3 separate regions of the Homo sapiens genome follow, and all the other regions are linked to region 1. The links come from fine-mapping of genetic effects on gene expression. A gene starts in region 1. Each other region holds a variant in brackets. All regions are shown on one strand. Distances are between the middles of the regions.

Region 1 (5,222 bases):
CTCATGATAGTGAGTGAGTTCTCACTAGATCCGGTTGTTAAAAAAGGTGTGGCACCTCCCCCCACCTCTTGCTCCTGCTTTCCCCATGTGACATGCCTGCTCCCACTTCACCCTCTGCCACTAGTAAAGCTCCCTGAGGCCCCTTGGAAGCCAAGCAGATGCTGGCACTATGGTTTACAGGCTGCAGAACTGTGAGCCAAATAAACCTCTTTTCTTTGTAAATTACCCAGTCTCAGATATTTCCCTATAGCAATGTAAGAATGGCCTAATACATTGGGTGATTCAGGGAAGGTTTCCTGATGGAGGTTGGGCTCTGAAAAGGGGAAATGGTGATTCTGGGCACAGGAAATGCTAGAGCAGAGCCCAGGCCCAGCAGCTGCAGGGCGTGCAGGAACCACTCATAGCAACCAGCCAGACACCGTTCGCCTCCTCTCCCTCTGCAAAATCTCCACTCACTCCTTTGGATATTGCTCTGACCATCCCCGCCCCGTCCTGTGACCTCTGCGGACTGGCATCCCAGCAGGATGGCCCAGCTCTCCAGCCTGGCAGCCAGAGCCTTCTCCACTAGGCCTTTTTCTCTTCACTCTCCTGGGCATGGCACCCCTGGGCAAACTCCTAACTACCACCTCTGCCTGGTATAGCTGGAACCACCCCACTGTGAAGCCTCCCTCACTCTGTAAAAGCCAGTACCCCAGGAAGCCTCCTCTAACCCTTTGCCCTCTGCCACTCCAAGGAAGTGCTATTGGAGGAGCTGCCTGATCTCTCTGGCCTTCTGTGTGGCAGCAGAAGTTTGTGTCAACTGCTGTGGGAACGTGATTGGTGGAGCAGGTGATTCCAGAACTCACGTGACCAGGACACGGAATGTGTGGGCTTGCCAATATTTTGATATATAAATCAACTGTTTTCATTATGGAAGTAACAAAACCTCAAGGGAAATAGAAAAAAAAATTCCCTGTAATCATCCCACCCAGCTAGGAGGTCTACTGTGTGTGTTTTTGACATTTTGCTGTCCTCGTTGGTGCAAGGGCAGATGTGACTGTTTATGCCTGTGGAGGGCAGAGGGGTTTTTCTTCTTCTTGTCTTTTTTTAGAGACAGGGTCTCCCTCTTTTGCCCAGCCTGGATGGAATGCAGTGGCATGATCCCAGCTCACTGCAGCCTCGAACCCCTGGCCTCAAAGGATCCTCCTGCCTCAGCCTCCCAAGTAGCTGGGACTACAGGCACCTGCCACCGTGCCTGGCTGATTTATTTTTTATTTGTTTGTTTAGAGATGGGGTCTCCCTACATTGGCCAGGCTGGTCTTGAACTCCTGGCCTCAAATGTTCCTCCTGTCTTGGCCTCCCAAAGTTTTGGGATTATAGGCGTGAGCCATGTTGTCGTCATTACAGCTACATTGAGATATAATTTATGTGCCACACAATGCATGCCTTTCAAGTGTACAGTTCAGTGGCATTGAGGTATATCCACAGAACCGTACAACCATCACCACATTGAGAAAATTTTTATCACCCTAAAAAATCCTTTACAAAATCCTTTACCCTTTAGCAGTCACCCCATGTTTTGATTTTTGCTTTACATGATTTTACAAGCATCTTTTCCTGTTGCTGGAAAATCTCCTTACCCATCCTCTTTGGTGACTGTCAGCAAAGGCTTTCGGGTGGTGAAATAGCGTGGCCAGGAGTGCTCTAGAACAATGGTGTTGGTGAGGGCTGCAGAAGCTGAGGACCCACAGGCAGAGAGGGAGGGATGGTAGAAGCAGGTGGTGAGGAGGGACTCGGGGCAGGACTTTGGGGGTAAAAGGAAGCAAGTCTCTGGAAGCAGAACCAGCAGCACTGCTGATCATTGGGACGTGGAGAAAGGCGAAGGCTCAGGGTGTCAGCAAACTTCCTAGGGTGGGTGAGGGTTGCCAGGTCAATAACGAACAGGGTCCCAGGAAAAGGCGGCAGCACAGGTTTGGGGAGAATTAGAGATGAGCTTGGTTTTGGTCTTGTTGGATTTGGGGGCACCAGTCTCTCTCCTGGCGAGAGTCGGCAGTGGGGTGTTAGGATCTGGCCCTCAGGAGGCTGTTAGGGCTGAAGCAAGAGATTTGGGAGTTAAGGGTGTGAGGGCCACGTGGGAGGCCTCGGGAGCCTGTGCCGATCCAGGGTGAGTGTGAAGGAAAGAAAAAAGAGGGCCCGGGGAACACTGGTATTTTCGGGCGGTGGACGAGGATGGGACGGCCACGAGCTTGTCTTAAGGTAGAAGGCAGAGCGGGGCCGTAGGGGCAGTGGCGCGGGCGAGGGTGGAGAACAGCGCTGAGCCTCGCTGGGAGGCGGCCGGAGGGGGCTGCAGCCCCCGAGGGCTCCTTGCAGTCCGGCCCCGCAGCCTGGAGACAGCTCCGGTGGTGCTGCGCTGCCCGAGACTGCTGCACGAGCGGGGACTGCGGCCTCGGCTCCCTGCCTGCCCGGCAGCCCCCCATCCAGTCGGCCTGCCCGGGGTGCGCAGGGTTAGCCTGGAGTGAGCTCGCCCCGCCCGGGGTTGCGCGGCCCTGGGGGGTCCTCTCGCGGCGGCTCCTGGGACCTGCTGGCGCCCCGGGCAGAGCCCGGCCCCATCCCAGGAGTCGCCCGGACTGGAAGGCAGTGCGAGCACTGGGACACAGCCTCCGAGCTCGAGCGTGACGGGAAGTTGGGGCAATTTGTTAGTTATCCGCCGCCACCAAGACGCGGCACGGCGCCTGGACCGGAGGGGCCCCGCGCGGGCGCGAACTTTGGGCTCGGGCGAGTGGGTGGTGCTCCGCCCAGCCCGAGACGGGCGGGCGCGCGGGCCAATGGGTGCCGCCTCTTGGCCGCGGGGGGCCCCGACCCGTGGGTCCCGGCCACCAGCGCCCCAGCCCCGAGGCTCAGAAGCGGCAGGCGGAGGCGCGGTCCGGGCGCTATGGCCATGCCCGGCGGGTCTCACGCGGCTGCCCCTCGCCCGGCGCGCCTTCGGTAGGGGGCGCCCGGGGCCCAGCTGGCCCGGCCATGCTGCTGGAGACACAGGACGCGCTGTACGTGGCGCTGGAGCTGGTCATCGCCGCGCTTTCGGTGGCGGGCAACGTGCTGGTGTGCGCCGCGGTGGGCACGGCGAACACTCTGCAGACGCCCACCAACTACTTCCTGGTGTCCCTGGCTGCGGCCGACGTGGCCGTGGGGCTCTTCGCCATCCCCTTTGCCATCACCATCAGCCTGGGCTTCTGCACTGACTTCTACGGCTGCCTCTTCCTCGCCTGCTTCGTGCTGGTGCTCACGCAGAGCTCCATCTTCAGCCTTCTGGCCGTGGCAGTCGACAGATACCTGGCCATCTGTGTCCCGCTCAGGTGAGGCGCTCGGCGTCGCCCGAACTCGGGGCCCCGTCGGAGCTCCGAAATGGGTCGTCTTCTCCAGGCCGGGGTTCCTCCCTCGGGGGCCCCAGACGGGCCAGGCTGGGGGCGCGCGGGGCGCTTGGAGGGCTGGTTCCCAGCCTGGCCACCCCGCAACGCTAGACCAGTGCGCCCGGGCACCCAAGACATCCCAGATGCGCGTCGCTCTAAGGAGATCTGCGTAGGGACAGCTCTAGGGGGTCCGGGGAGTGCGGTCCCCGGCGCCCGGGGAGGCGCCGTGGAAACCCCGGGGAAAGCGTCACCCCCGGGGAAAGCGTCACCCCCGTGGGCGGGTGGAGCCCGGGGCGCGGGAGTTTTGGTGATCACATCTCCACTCCTGCCACGAAGGCCGTTCCTAACACTCGCCCGCAGCGGCGGTGCAGCGGCAGTCCCGTGAGTGCTGCGGCTCCCGGAGGCCCGGGAGGTTCCCACTAAGGGCAAGGCAACTTTGGACGCTGGGCATTCGCACCGTCAGAATGGACACGCATGAGCCAGCTTCAGAACGTGTCTGCTGCGGAGAGGCGGCCCGGCCCATCCCAGGGGAAGGTGTCCGTTAACTTTGGGGAACGCTACGGACTCAGATTATATACTTTTAAAAGGAGTTACAATGCTTCCTCGTGTCTGGCAAACGGCCTTACAGCCTCACTGCCCTTGTGTAACTATTTATCTCCTGCTGCCCTGTTGGGAGCGGGCTGAGAAGTGCAGAAAATGGTGGCGAACTTACTTGTCCACTCTTTCTCCCACACTGAGAAAATCTAGGATTCAGGGGATGGAGTCAGCCAGCGACCAGAGTGGATTCCCAGTTGGAGCTGATGACTTCAACATTGAGAGTTTGTTGAAAGTATTTATTCTCTGTCTTTGGTGCCTGGGCCACTTTGGCATTTCTGAGGAGAGCTTGAGATCTCTTTAAATTTGGAGCTGAGACAGGGAAACTAAATCACAGAGTAGGAAGGAAGGGAAGGAATTCATTTATTGGGTGCCAACTCTGTGCAGACAGTTTATAATAAACGTGTCCCCAGCAGTCCTTGCAGTAGTACCAGAGGACGGGTGCTGTAACCTTCATCTCGTAGAGGAGGGGTGATGGCCCAGGGAGGTTGGAGTCTTGCCCAGGATGGTGTATCAGGGATGGGTGTCAGAGCCGGGGCTTGAACTCACAGCTGGCACCGTGTCCCCACCCATGCCATCAGGCCACTCTGCAAGGCCATGTGTGGCACCGTGTTTAGGAGTCAGGGAGAAAAGTGCTCTGCTGTTTTGGGAGGAGGAGCCTGCCTGCAGTAAACTGGTGGTTGTAGGGGAATGTGTTTGTGGGAATGGAGCCGGAGAATGCTCCCAGAGGCCATTTGAGTAGGCAGATGTGTTGGGCCTGGTCCTTGCAGGTTGTTTCGTGGGTCCCAGCAGGAACAGGAGCCTCCTGCTTGGGAGGGCTGTGAGCCTTATGTGGGTGTCTGGCCACTCCATGTGCTGCTGCCCGTGCTGTTGGACCAGGAGGCCTTATGTCTCCCATCAGGTGTGACAGCCCAGGGATTTCCAAGGCTTAGGGAGGACAGCAGTTTCTTCTCTCTCTTCTGGATCCCTTCCCTGCCTTTTGGTGTCATCGTTGTTACTTGATGGCATTTTGGATGTTTTGCATCCAGCAGAGCAGTCACAAGCCCCAGCCTGAGTTGTCCATCTAATGGAAACCCCTTGGACTTGCCCTGGCAGAGACCAGAGACCCAGAGAGGAGTTAGTGGAACAATCTCCCAGGCCACAGGGAGCAGGAAGTTCCATGAAAGTTTAAATCTGTTCCTTCTTGTCCTGGTTTGTGCTGGGTGAGGTCTTGAAAAAAATGGGTGTGGGTGTGTTAAGGGG
Region 2 (5,222 bases), 44 kb before region 1:
TCCGGTTTCAAGCGATTCTCCTGCATCAGCCTCCCGAGTAGCTGGGTTTTACACTTTCTTAATCTCCCACTTTTTTTTTTTTTTTTTTTGAGACAGAGTCTCAAAATCCCGAGTAGCTGGGATTTCAGGCACCCACTACCACACATGGCTAATTTTTGTATTTTTAGTGGAGATGGGGTTTCACCATGTTGGCCAGGCTGGTCTCGAACTCCTGACTTCGTGATCCACCCGCCTCAGCCTCCCAAAGTTCTGGGATTACAGGCGTGAGCCACTGCGCCCGGCCTTGCTTTTTAAATTTATTGTCTTTGTCTTAAGTTTTGTCTAAAGCACTACAGAAGTTAGCTGGGAAGAGAATGAGATCATGTTCTTAATTGTCAGAGTCAAGGATTTTATTTGGATGGATGGTCTGTGAGGAGCTGCTGACACACATGATAAGTAATCTTAAAGTCACTTAGGAGTGTTTGTGAACATTTTAACCAGCTTATTCCAACAACGAAATAGAAATTTCCTACATTCTTAAACATTTGTTTTTCAATACCGTGATGTGGATTGAAAAATAATATAGGCCGGGCACAGTAGCTCACGCCCATAATCCCAGCATTTTGGGAGGCTGAGGTGGGCAGATCACTTGAGTCCAGGAGTCCTAGACCAGCCTGGCCAACATGGTGAAACTGTGTCTCTACTAAAAATACAAAAATTAGCTGAGCATGGTGGCGCACACCTGTAATCCCAGCTACTTGGGAGGCTGAGGCAGGAGAATCACTTGAACCTGGGAGGCGGAGGTTGCAGTGTGCCAAGATAGCACCACTGCACTCCAGCCTGGGTGACAGAGCGAGACTCTGTCTCAAAAAAAAAAAGAAAAATAATATATTGAATTATACATGACACTTTTAAACTACACCCAGTCAGAACTGACAGCAGTAGTAATCCATAAATCTTCCATCAAGTTCTGTAGTTAGATTATGCAGGGAAAATTTTCTTATATGTATATATTCAAGTAAATAGCAGTTTCTGGGTGTAACATATTAGCAAGCATGAGAACTTTAATTAATTTATTTTTATAATTTCAACTTTTACTTGAGATTCCGGGAGTACATGTGCAGGTTTGTTACATGGGTATATGGCATGCTGCTGAGGTTTGGGGTATGATTGATCTTCTTACCCAGGTAGTGAGTATAGCACCCAGTTGTTTTTCAGCCCTTGCCTCTCTTCTTCCATTCCCTCTCTTGTAGTCCCCAGTGTCTATTGTCCCATCTTTATGCCCATGACTACCCAGTGTTTAGCGTCCTCTTGTAAGTGAAAACATGCAATATTTGGTTTTCTGTTTCTATGTGGGTTAGCTTAGGATTATGGCCTCCAGCTGCATCCATGTTGCTGCAAAGGACATCAGTTCATTCTTTTTTATGGCTGTGTAGTATTCCATGGTGTTTATATGTACCACATTTTCTTTTTTTCTTTTTTTTTTTTGAGACAGAGTCTCTCTCTGTCGGCAGGCTGGGGTGCAGTGGCGTGATTCTAGCTCACTGCAACCTCTGACTCCCTGGTTCAAGTGATTCTTCTGCCTCAGCCTCCTGAGTAGCTGGGATTACAGGCACGTGCCACCATGCCCAGCTAATTTTTATATTTTTAGTTGAGACAGGCTTTCACCATGTTGGCCAGGGTGGTCTCGATCTCTTGACCTCGTGATCCGCTTGCCTCGGCCTCCCAAAGTGCTGGGACTACAGGCATGAGCCACTGCACCCAGCCAAACACATTTTCTTTATCCGGTCCACCACTGATGGACACCTAAGTTGATTCCATGTCTTTGCTATTGTGAGTAGTGATGCAGTGAACATACATGTGCATTTGTCTTTTTGGTAGAATGATTTATTTTCTGTTGGATATATACCCAGTAATGGGATTACTGGGTTGAATGGTAGTTTTGTTTTAAGTTTTTTGAGAAATCTCCGAATCGCTTTCCACAGTGGCTGTACTAATTTACATTCCCACCAACAGGGTATAAGCATTCCCTTTTCTCCTCAACCTCACCAGCATCTGTTATATTTTGACTTTTTATTTTTATTTTTTATTTTTTATTTTTTTGACATAGGGTCTTGCCCTGTCGCCCAGGCTGAAGCACAGTGATATGATGATAGGTCATGCAGCTTTGAACTCCCAGGCTAAAGTGATCCTCCCACCTCAGCCTCCCAAGTAGCTAGGACTACATGCATGTGCCACCATGCCCAGCTAATTAAAAAAATTTTTTTTGTAGTGATGCATTCTCAACATGTTGCCTAGGCTGGTCTTGAACTCCTGGGATCAAGCAATCCTCCCACCTCAGCCCCTTAAAGTACTGAGATTACAGGTGTGAGCCACCGTGCCCAGCCTGACTTTTTATCAGTAGCCATTCTGACTGGTGTGAGAGGATGCAATCTTTAAAAGTGAAGTTCTGCAGCGTTTCCCAGATCTTAGAAAGTGTTCCTCCTCGGCCACCATGTAAGGAAAGCGTCTTAGCCAGCCCAATTGCAAGTGTGAGCAATTCCCCACAGAAAGAATTTGGTGAGGGAGAATATGTGACATCGCTGTTGTAAAAACAGTCAGAACGTGTGTCCCCAGGACTGCCATGTCTGTACCGGGCCGTTTAGTCCATGAAGGTTGTTGCTCACTGAGTGCCAGCATGCCCACCGGGACAGCAGCTGCACACACAGACTGGGTGCTGCAGGCTCCCTCTAGGGAGGTCACCACAAAGCGATTCCTGAGGCGTGACCACACCTACTCTGCAGTCTGAACTTGATGAGCTATACTGAAATAGCTAATTTGAGGCTGGGCACAGTGGCTCACACCTGTAATCCCAGCACTTTGAGAGGCTGAGGTGGGCAGATCACCTTAGGTCAGGAGTTTGAGACCAGCCTGACCAACATGGAGAAGCCCTGTCTCTACTAAAAATACAAAATTAGC[C/T]GGGTGTGGTGGTGCATGCCTGTAATCCCAGCTACTCAGGAGGCTGAGGCAGGAGAATCCTTGAACCCAGGAGGTGGAGGTTGTGGTGAGCCAAGATCACACCATTGCACTCCAGCCTGGGCAACAAGAGCGAAACTCCATCTCAAAAGAGAAAAAAAAAAAAAGCTAATTTGAGCTGATTACATGAAAAGCACTTTTTTTCATATTTACTATGTCTACTTACTATTTACCCATTCTAGGCATTTTCCATGCATGGATTTATTGAACCCTCATGGAGGTTCTGCAAAATGAATACACTGTACAGGGGGAAACTGAGGCACACAGCTCCTAGGCAAGAGGCAAGTCCAGGCAGGCAGCTCCAGAGCCCATGCCCTCAACCATGGTGACAGTTGTGTCCACCCTCTGGCTCCTAAAACACAATTTATTCATGGTATAATCGAGCACATGCCCTATTATATTGTAATTTATCTGATCATATGGCAAATCTCCCCCCACCACCTCCGCAAGACCACGAGCTCCCAAGAGCAAGAAGTTTTATCTTGTTTTTTATTGTGGTAAAATACACATAAGAGTCACTGTCTTAATTTTTAGTTTACAGTTCAGTGGTATTGAGTCCATTCATGTTGTGGGTGCAGCTGTCACACCTTCCTCTCCAGCACTCTTCATCTTCTCAAACCGGCACTCTGCGCCCATTAAACATTAACTCCCCATTCTCCCTCCCCTCAGCCCCTGGCAACCACCATTCCACTTTCTGTCTCTGTGAATCTGACTACTCTAGTACCTCATTTGAGTGGATTCATATGGGATTTGTCTTTTTGTGAGTGGGTTATTTCACTCAGCATAATGTTTTCAAAGTTCATCCAGGTTTAGCATTAGCATGTACCAGGATTCCCTTCCTTTTTTTTTTTTTGAGACAGTCTCGCTCTGTCATTCCAGGCTGGAGTGCAGTGGCACGATCTTGGCTCACTGCAACCTCCACCTTCCAGGTTCAAGCGATTCTCCTGCCTCAGCCTCCTGGGATTACAGGCCTGCGCCATCATGCCTGGCTAATTTTTGTATTTTTACAAATATTTCTCCATGTTGGCCAGGCTGGCCCCAAACTCCTGACCTCAGGTAATCCACCTGCCTCAGGCTCCCAAAGTGCTGGGATTACAGGCATGAGCCACTGCGCTGGGTCGCTTCCTTTTTAAGGCTGAATAATATCCCAAATATCCCATTGTACGGATAAACCACATTTTGCTCATCCATTTATCATCAGCCAATATTTTCCAAACCAAGTTCATTTTCATCCTGGCTGGAGCCTTTTTCTCTTCCATCTGATTTGTTCTGTCTTCAGCATCCCACGAATTGGATACTTACTCCATGCTAATCCATCCCATGGCTGTCCACACCAAACCACATGGGAGGATGATTTCCCTGTATCAGAGCTGACATACCATTACAAAGGCTACTCGGCTTCTGGATCTACACTTCCTCAGTAGCCTTGAAGTTCAGAATCAGCTTCAGATGCACAGTAGAAGCATTCTCCTTGTCAGATGAACAGTGCAGAAGATTCTGGAGGGCTCACTGGCAACCTGTCATGGCAGGTTGTGATGGGAAGGGGCCCATGGGGGCTTCTGGGATGCAGATAGTGTGCTACTTTGTGATCTGGGAGGTGATTATATATATTTGCTTTATAATAACTCATTAAATTATGAATTTATATTTTATATATTTTTCAAATGTATCTTGTGTTTCACAATGAGTAGTTATTAAAAGATTGGAAGTAATTATAAACATCTAGATGGATTCTGCAGTTTGCTTCATAACTGTCTTTAAATTTTTGCTCCACTTGAAAATTTTTAAAAAGTAAATTAGGGCTTTCTGGACTGTCTATTTTGGGTCTGGCTTTTGCAAGAAACATGGCATCAAGCCCTCAACCTTGGACCATGCTCAAATAAAAGGCCTAGGTTCAAATCATTGGATGGGCAAATGAGTATGTATAGTTGTATATTTCAGGTTAAAATGAAAAATATAAGATTGAAATGGAAAATATATATTATTTTCTGTGGTTACCCACTTTAGGCTGTATTTTTGTCTAGATACAGTGGGAACTCTGCTAAATTCACCTTTTATGTAAATTGGAAATTTTACTTAGAAAGGCCTACTTTAGCACTATGTAGGGGGAAGAAAGCACCTTCTAGGCTGAATGCTACCCAGAGACCCTCCCCCCAAGCACCTATGCTTCAAAATTGCCTCCAGCACCCACTGTCAAGCCTCCCAGCCCATCCCCACCCTAGCATCTC
Region 3 (5,222 bases), 29 kb before region 1:
CTGAGGCATCTGTTGTTGCACTGTCTGTGGCAATGGTCTCTGCTGCCCAGAAGCCCATGGCACTTGCCCACCCTGTGTCCCTTGGCCCACAGCTGGCTCTTCCTTCCCTGAGCCAGAAGGGCTTGGATTCTTAGGCTGTGCATTTACACCCTGCACTCTGAGCTCCTTGGAAGCAGAGCTGTGTATTTACTGACTCAAAATGCTACAGCCTAATGTGTAACAGTTGCTAAATAGATAATTTTTGATTAATTAGTGGAAATATCCAGCTCCCACTGATGGTCATTCTGACTTGGAATTCTTCACTGAACTCAAGGAATAAACACCTCCGCATCCAGCCTGGTTTCAGAGCTGCAGTCAGTCTTGTCAACAGTTGTTTCCAGCTTTTCCAGCTTGATGGTGAAAATCCCAGAATTGCAAACAAGAAGGACCCCTGGAGGGAAACTCAAAACCTGGCCATTCTAAGACCTTTGTCATTTTTCCTTCTTTCTCTGCTACTATCACTTATGGTATCATGAATGGACACAATACATTTCCAAGCAGAATCTCTGAACCTTCCAAACTCATTAAATTCATACATTGTAACTTGACTCACCTGCCTTATTAAAACCTTACCAACATTTTTCTAGATTATGAAAAATATGCTATAAAAAAATTTGGCCTGGACATCTTGCAGTGTTGGCCAAAGGGCCGGTCCCGTCACCCCTCCCATATGTCCATCTGGGTTACTATTTATATCACCCTTTAAACCAGATCATTACCCTCATATCAGAAAAATAGCAAAACAGAAAATGGAACATGGGAAAAGTTAGCCACAGCTTGCTTTTACTGCTACATGTGACCTCAGAAGGCCTGGCCACTGTTTGAAAAGTCTAATCCTAGACAACACATATGGCTGGAGAAGGAACCTTGACCACAGCAGAGTCTTCGATCTTCTCAGGGGCAGGAGGACTTCACTGTGCTCTTCTGATAGCCAGGAACAGGCACCTAGGCGGGCTGCCCCGAATCATGGGGACATGCAGCTCATGGCAAGGAGGAAAATGAGCCATACTGAGTCCTGGGAAGGCATTTCAAACACACATTTTACTCCCACACATTTGACCACCTATAGTTGGAAGAAAAAATAAGGTTAATTCAAAAAAAAATTCTTTGAGACAATCTCACTCTCTTGCCCATGCTGGAGTGTGGTGGCATGATCCTAGCACACTAGAACCTTGAACTCCTGGGATCAAGGGATCCTTCCACCTCAGCCTCCTAAGTAGCTAGGACTACAGATGCATGCCATCACACCCAGCTGACTTTTTATATTTTTACTTTTTGTAGAGAGAGGGCTCTTGCTTTGTTGCCCAGGCTAGCCTCAAACCTCTGGCCCCAAGTGATCCTCCCATCCGAGTCTCCCAAAGTGCTGAGATTACAAGTGTGAGCCACTGTGCCCAGCTGTTAAAAAAAACAGGATGTGTCTATTGTCACCTGCCATTGCAGCCAATAATCATGTGCCCCAGAGCAAGCATGAACCATATAGCTGGTCTGTCTACAGCCTCAGCTCCTGTGGGTCACCCATTGTGTAAGTGTCCCATGACATTGAGTGCAGTTTCAGTATTTAAAGCTTTCTTTGCTTGCTTGTTTGTTTGGATACAGTATGGACCTTAACTGCAAGCTAACTGTTTCATCTAATGCTCAGCGCATCCCTGGAGGAAAACTTGGCTGTGTTGGGGCCATTTGAGAGGATTTTTAGATGTTCCAGATGGTAGCTTGATGGCAACTGACACAGGAGAATTTCCAACTTGTGCACTGACTTTAGATCCTAACTTCTTAGGCAACTCTCCTCAAAGTTCAGGTCTTTTGGGGCAACCCTCATTTCGTGACTACCTCGGGCTGAGTCATGACTGCTCACTGTCATTGTATTCGCTTTCTGTGGCTGTTGTAACAAATTATCACAAACTCAGTGGCTTAAAACAACAGGAACTTGGTATCTCACAGTCCTGGGGTTCAGAAGTGCAGCATAGCCTCACTGTGTTAAAATCAAGGTGTCACAGTGCAGCTTCCTTCCTGGAGGCTCTAGAAGAGAATCCGCCTTCTTGCCATTCCCAGCCTCCAGGGGCCTCCTGCATTCCTTAGCTTGTGGCCCCTTCCTGCATCTTCAAAGCCAGCAGCGTTGCCTCTGTGGCTGTTCTTCCAGTCACATCTCCCCTGGTTCTCTGCTGCTGCGAAAGGCGCTCTGATTTTAAGGACTCATGTTAAGTAGATTGGGCCTATCTGGAGAATCCAGGCTATTCTCTCTATTGCAAGGTCTCTAACCTTAATCACATCTGCAGAGTCCCTTCTGCCATGTAAGCTAACACATTTACAGGTTCCAGGGACTCAGGAGTGGACATCTCTGGGGACCATTATTCTGCCTGCCATAGTCATCTCTTCTTTCTTTCTCCACCCATTAACAATCCATGGAATCTTTCTGTATTTTCTAGTTATAGTTACCAAGCTGTGTTAGTCAAGGTTCTCCAGAGAAACAGCCCCAATAGGAGATAGATAGGTGATAGATAGACAGGTGGACAGAAAGGGAATGAGATTAATTATACAGAACTGCCCCATGTGACTATGGAGGCTGAGAAGTCCCACAGTCTGCCGTGTCCAAGTGGAGACCCAGGAAGGCCAGTGGTGATGTTCAAAGGCCTAAAGAATTAAATATTCCTCTACCTTTTGGTTATATTTAAGCCCTCAGTGGATTGGGTGATGCCCACTGATATTGGGGAGGGTATCTGCTTGATTTAGTTCACCAACCCAAATACTAATCTCTTCCAGAAAC[G/A]CCCTCACAGCCACCCCAGAAACAATGTCCAACCAGCTATGTGGACATCCCTTGGCCCAGTGAAGTTGACACATAAAGTTAACCGTCACACAAGCTGAAGAATCAGATTGGCCTGCGATAGGTCTCCCCATTCTGCCTGAGCAGGCACTGATTTTCACATGGGATCACCTCACGGGTCACTAACCAGTCAGCAGTCGGCTGCCCTGGCTGTCAGCTGGGGTGGGGGGGTCACATGGCACTCACTATGGCTGCCTGCTTACGAACAGGCGAAGACTCTTGCAGCCCAGAGCTGTCTCCCTCCAAAGGCAGTGGTAAGCGGGATGAGCTGCAGGCTGTTATGTGTCCTGGGATGGGAATCAGGCTTCTCCCAAACAAGTCAACCTTCCTGGGGACTGCAGCTTTGTGCTACTGCAGCTGGAAGCCCAGCAGGACTGTGGGTCTGAGCCAGCCCCTGAGTTGAAGTGTAGGAGGACAAGTCACAGACAAAACCCCTCAGACACCGAGTTAAAGAAGGAAGGGCTTTATTCGACCAGGAGCTTCGACAAGACTCACATCTCCAACAACTGAGCTCCTGAGTGAACAACTCCTGTCCCTTTTAGGGGCTCACAACTCTAAGGGGGGTCCGCGTGAGAGGGTCGTGATCAACTGAGCAAGGAGGGGGGGTACATGACTGGGGTCTGCAAGCTCCTGCGTCGGTAATTAGAACAGAACAGGACAGGGATTTTCACAGTGCTTTTCTATACAGTGTCTGTAATCTATAGATAACATAACCAATTACATCAGGGGTCAATCTTTAATTACCAGGCCCAGGGAGTGGTGCCAGGCTGTCTGCCTGTGGATTTCATTTCTGCCTTTTAGTTTTTAATTCTTTCTTTGGAGGCAGAAATTGGGCATAAGACAGTATGAGGGGTGGTCTCCTCCCTTAGAAGGGGTTGTGGCACCAGTGAATTAGGTCATTGCCAGACCATTTTATAGACCAGGAAACTGAGGCACAGAAAGGCTCAATAATTTGCCTAAAGCAGCTCAGCTTGGAGAAGGCAAAGCAAGGATTTAAACCTAAGTGATCTGGCACCAAAGCCTGCACTCCTAGCCACTGCTCAATGCTCCACCATCGGCCACCTGTCCTGGAGAAGGAGGAGCACTTGCTGTGATCTCTTAATTGAAAAACAAGGCCGGGCACAGTGGCTTCCCAGCTCTTTGGGAGGACAACATGGGAGGATGGCTTGAGCAGGAGTTCAAGACCAGCCTGGGCAACAAAAACGAGACTGCATCTCCACAAAAAACTAAAAATGAGCTGGGCGTGGTGGCGCCTGTGGTCCCAGCTACTTGGGAGTCAGAGGCGGGAGAATCGCTTGAACCCGAGAGATAGAGGCTGCAGTGAGATCTGATTGTGCCACTGCATTCCCTCCTGGGCAACAGAGCCAGACCGTGCCTGCCACGGTACGCTGGTGTCCTCTTGAAGAGGGGGCTAGGCGGGGACAGCGGTACCCACGGAGTCTCGGAGTCTCGAGGGGCACGTTCCCTCAGGGCTCCCAAGGGGCGCCCACAAGGCGCCAGGCTGAGCCGGCGCAGCCAAATCTCCTCAGGGCTGCGGCCGCCCATCCTGGGACCGCGCCCCTGCACCATGTGGACGGTGCAGGCTGGGCTGGGGTCTGACGCCCGAGGACCCCTTCCCCCTGCCCAGCCCTGCCCCCGCAGGCACTGGAGGGCTCCCCTAGGCGGGGCTCCGGGCTAGGGAACAGGGATGCCCAGCAATCTCGCGCTCCCGGGGCCGGACTCCAGCGGCAGGGGCCTCCCCAGGCTGCGGCTCCGCGCCGGTGACGGGGGCTCTGCCGAAGGGCTCCTGCCCCTGCCTAGCCTGGCCCATGCTGGTCGCATCAGGGGCTCCATTCAACAGACGACCGCTCCGGGCCTGGCGCGGGCAGGGGCGCGCAGTCACCGCCTACTCGGCTCCTTGGCTTAGGCTCCCCAACCCCCTGCCACAGGAGGCCACCCCAAACTTCGCCTGTCCAGGCGAGTGCTCGGGCTCGGTCCCAGCCCCGCCTCCTGCCGCTGTCCCTCCCTCCCTCTCGAGCCTGCACTGGGCCCGGGCTGTCCTCCTCCGTATCCTTGTGGGTGATTGTACGTCCAGGTGGCCGTCGCGAGGCACCTTAGACTGGGCAGCTTAGAAACAACATTGCTATCTCGTGGTCCTGGGAGTCTGCGCTCGGGGTGGCAGCGTGGTCGGGCTCTGGAAAAGGCCTTCTTCCCGGTTGCCCAAGACCACCTTCTTGCTGTGTCCTCACTTGGACAGAGGGAGCTGCTCCTGGCCTCTTACAGGGGCAGGAATCCTTCCATCCTCATGACCTGGTCACCTCCCCAAGGCCCCAGCTCCTTATACCTTCACCTTGGTTCAGGTTTCAGCAGAGGAATTTGGAGAGGG

What was found. PIP is the estimated chance that this variant, and not a neighbour inherited with it, causes the effect.
Region 2: its variant is the best candidate, but not a certain one, in a credible set for the expression of ADORA2B in whole blood (TOPMed, PIP 0.67).
Region 3: its variant is the best candidate, but not a certain one, in a credible set for the expression of ADORA2B in whole blood (GTEx, PIP 0.75).

Annotation. Positions count from the first base shown.
Region 1 is chr17:15,942,252-15,947,473 of GRCh38, forward strand. ADORA2B (adenosine A2b receptor) reads left to right here and starts at 2,879. Exons shown (of 2, transcript NM_000676.4): 1 at 2,879-3,332. The coding sequence starts at 2,998. RefSeq lists a silencer at 2,435-3,054 and an enhancer at 2,882-3,696.
Region 2 is chr17:15,898,384-15,903,605 of GRCh38, forward strand. It overlaps a transcript of ADORA2B not described here. Among named protein-coding and RNA genes, the nearest start is that of ADORA2B, 44 kb to the right of the region's middle. The variant C/T (reference allele first, on the strand shown) is at 2,938.
Region 3 is chr17:15,913,069-15,918,290 of GRCh38, forward strand. It overlaps a transcript of ADORA2B not described here. Among named protein-coding and RNA genes, the nearest start is that of ADORA2B, 29 kb to the right of the region's middle. The variant G/A (reference allele first, on the strand shown) is at 2,801.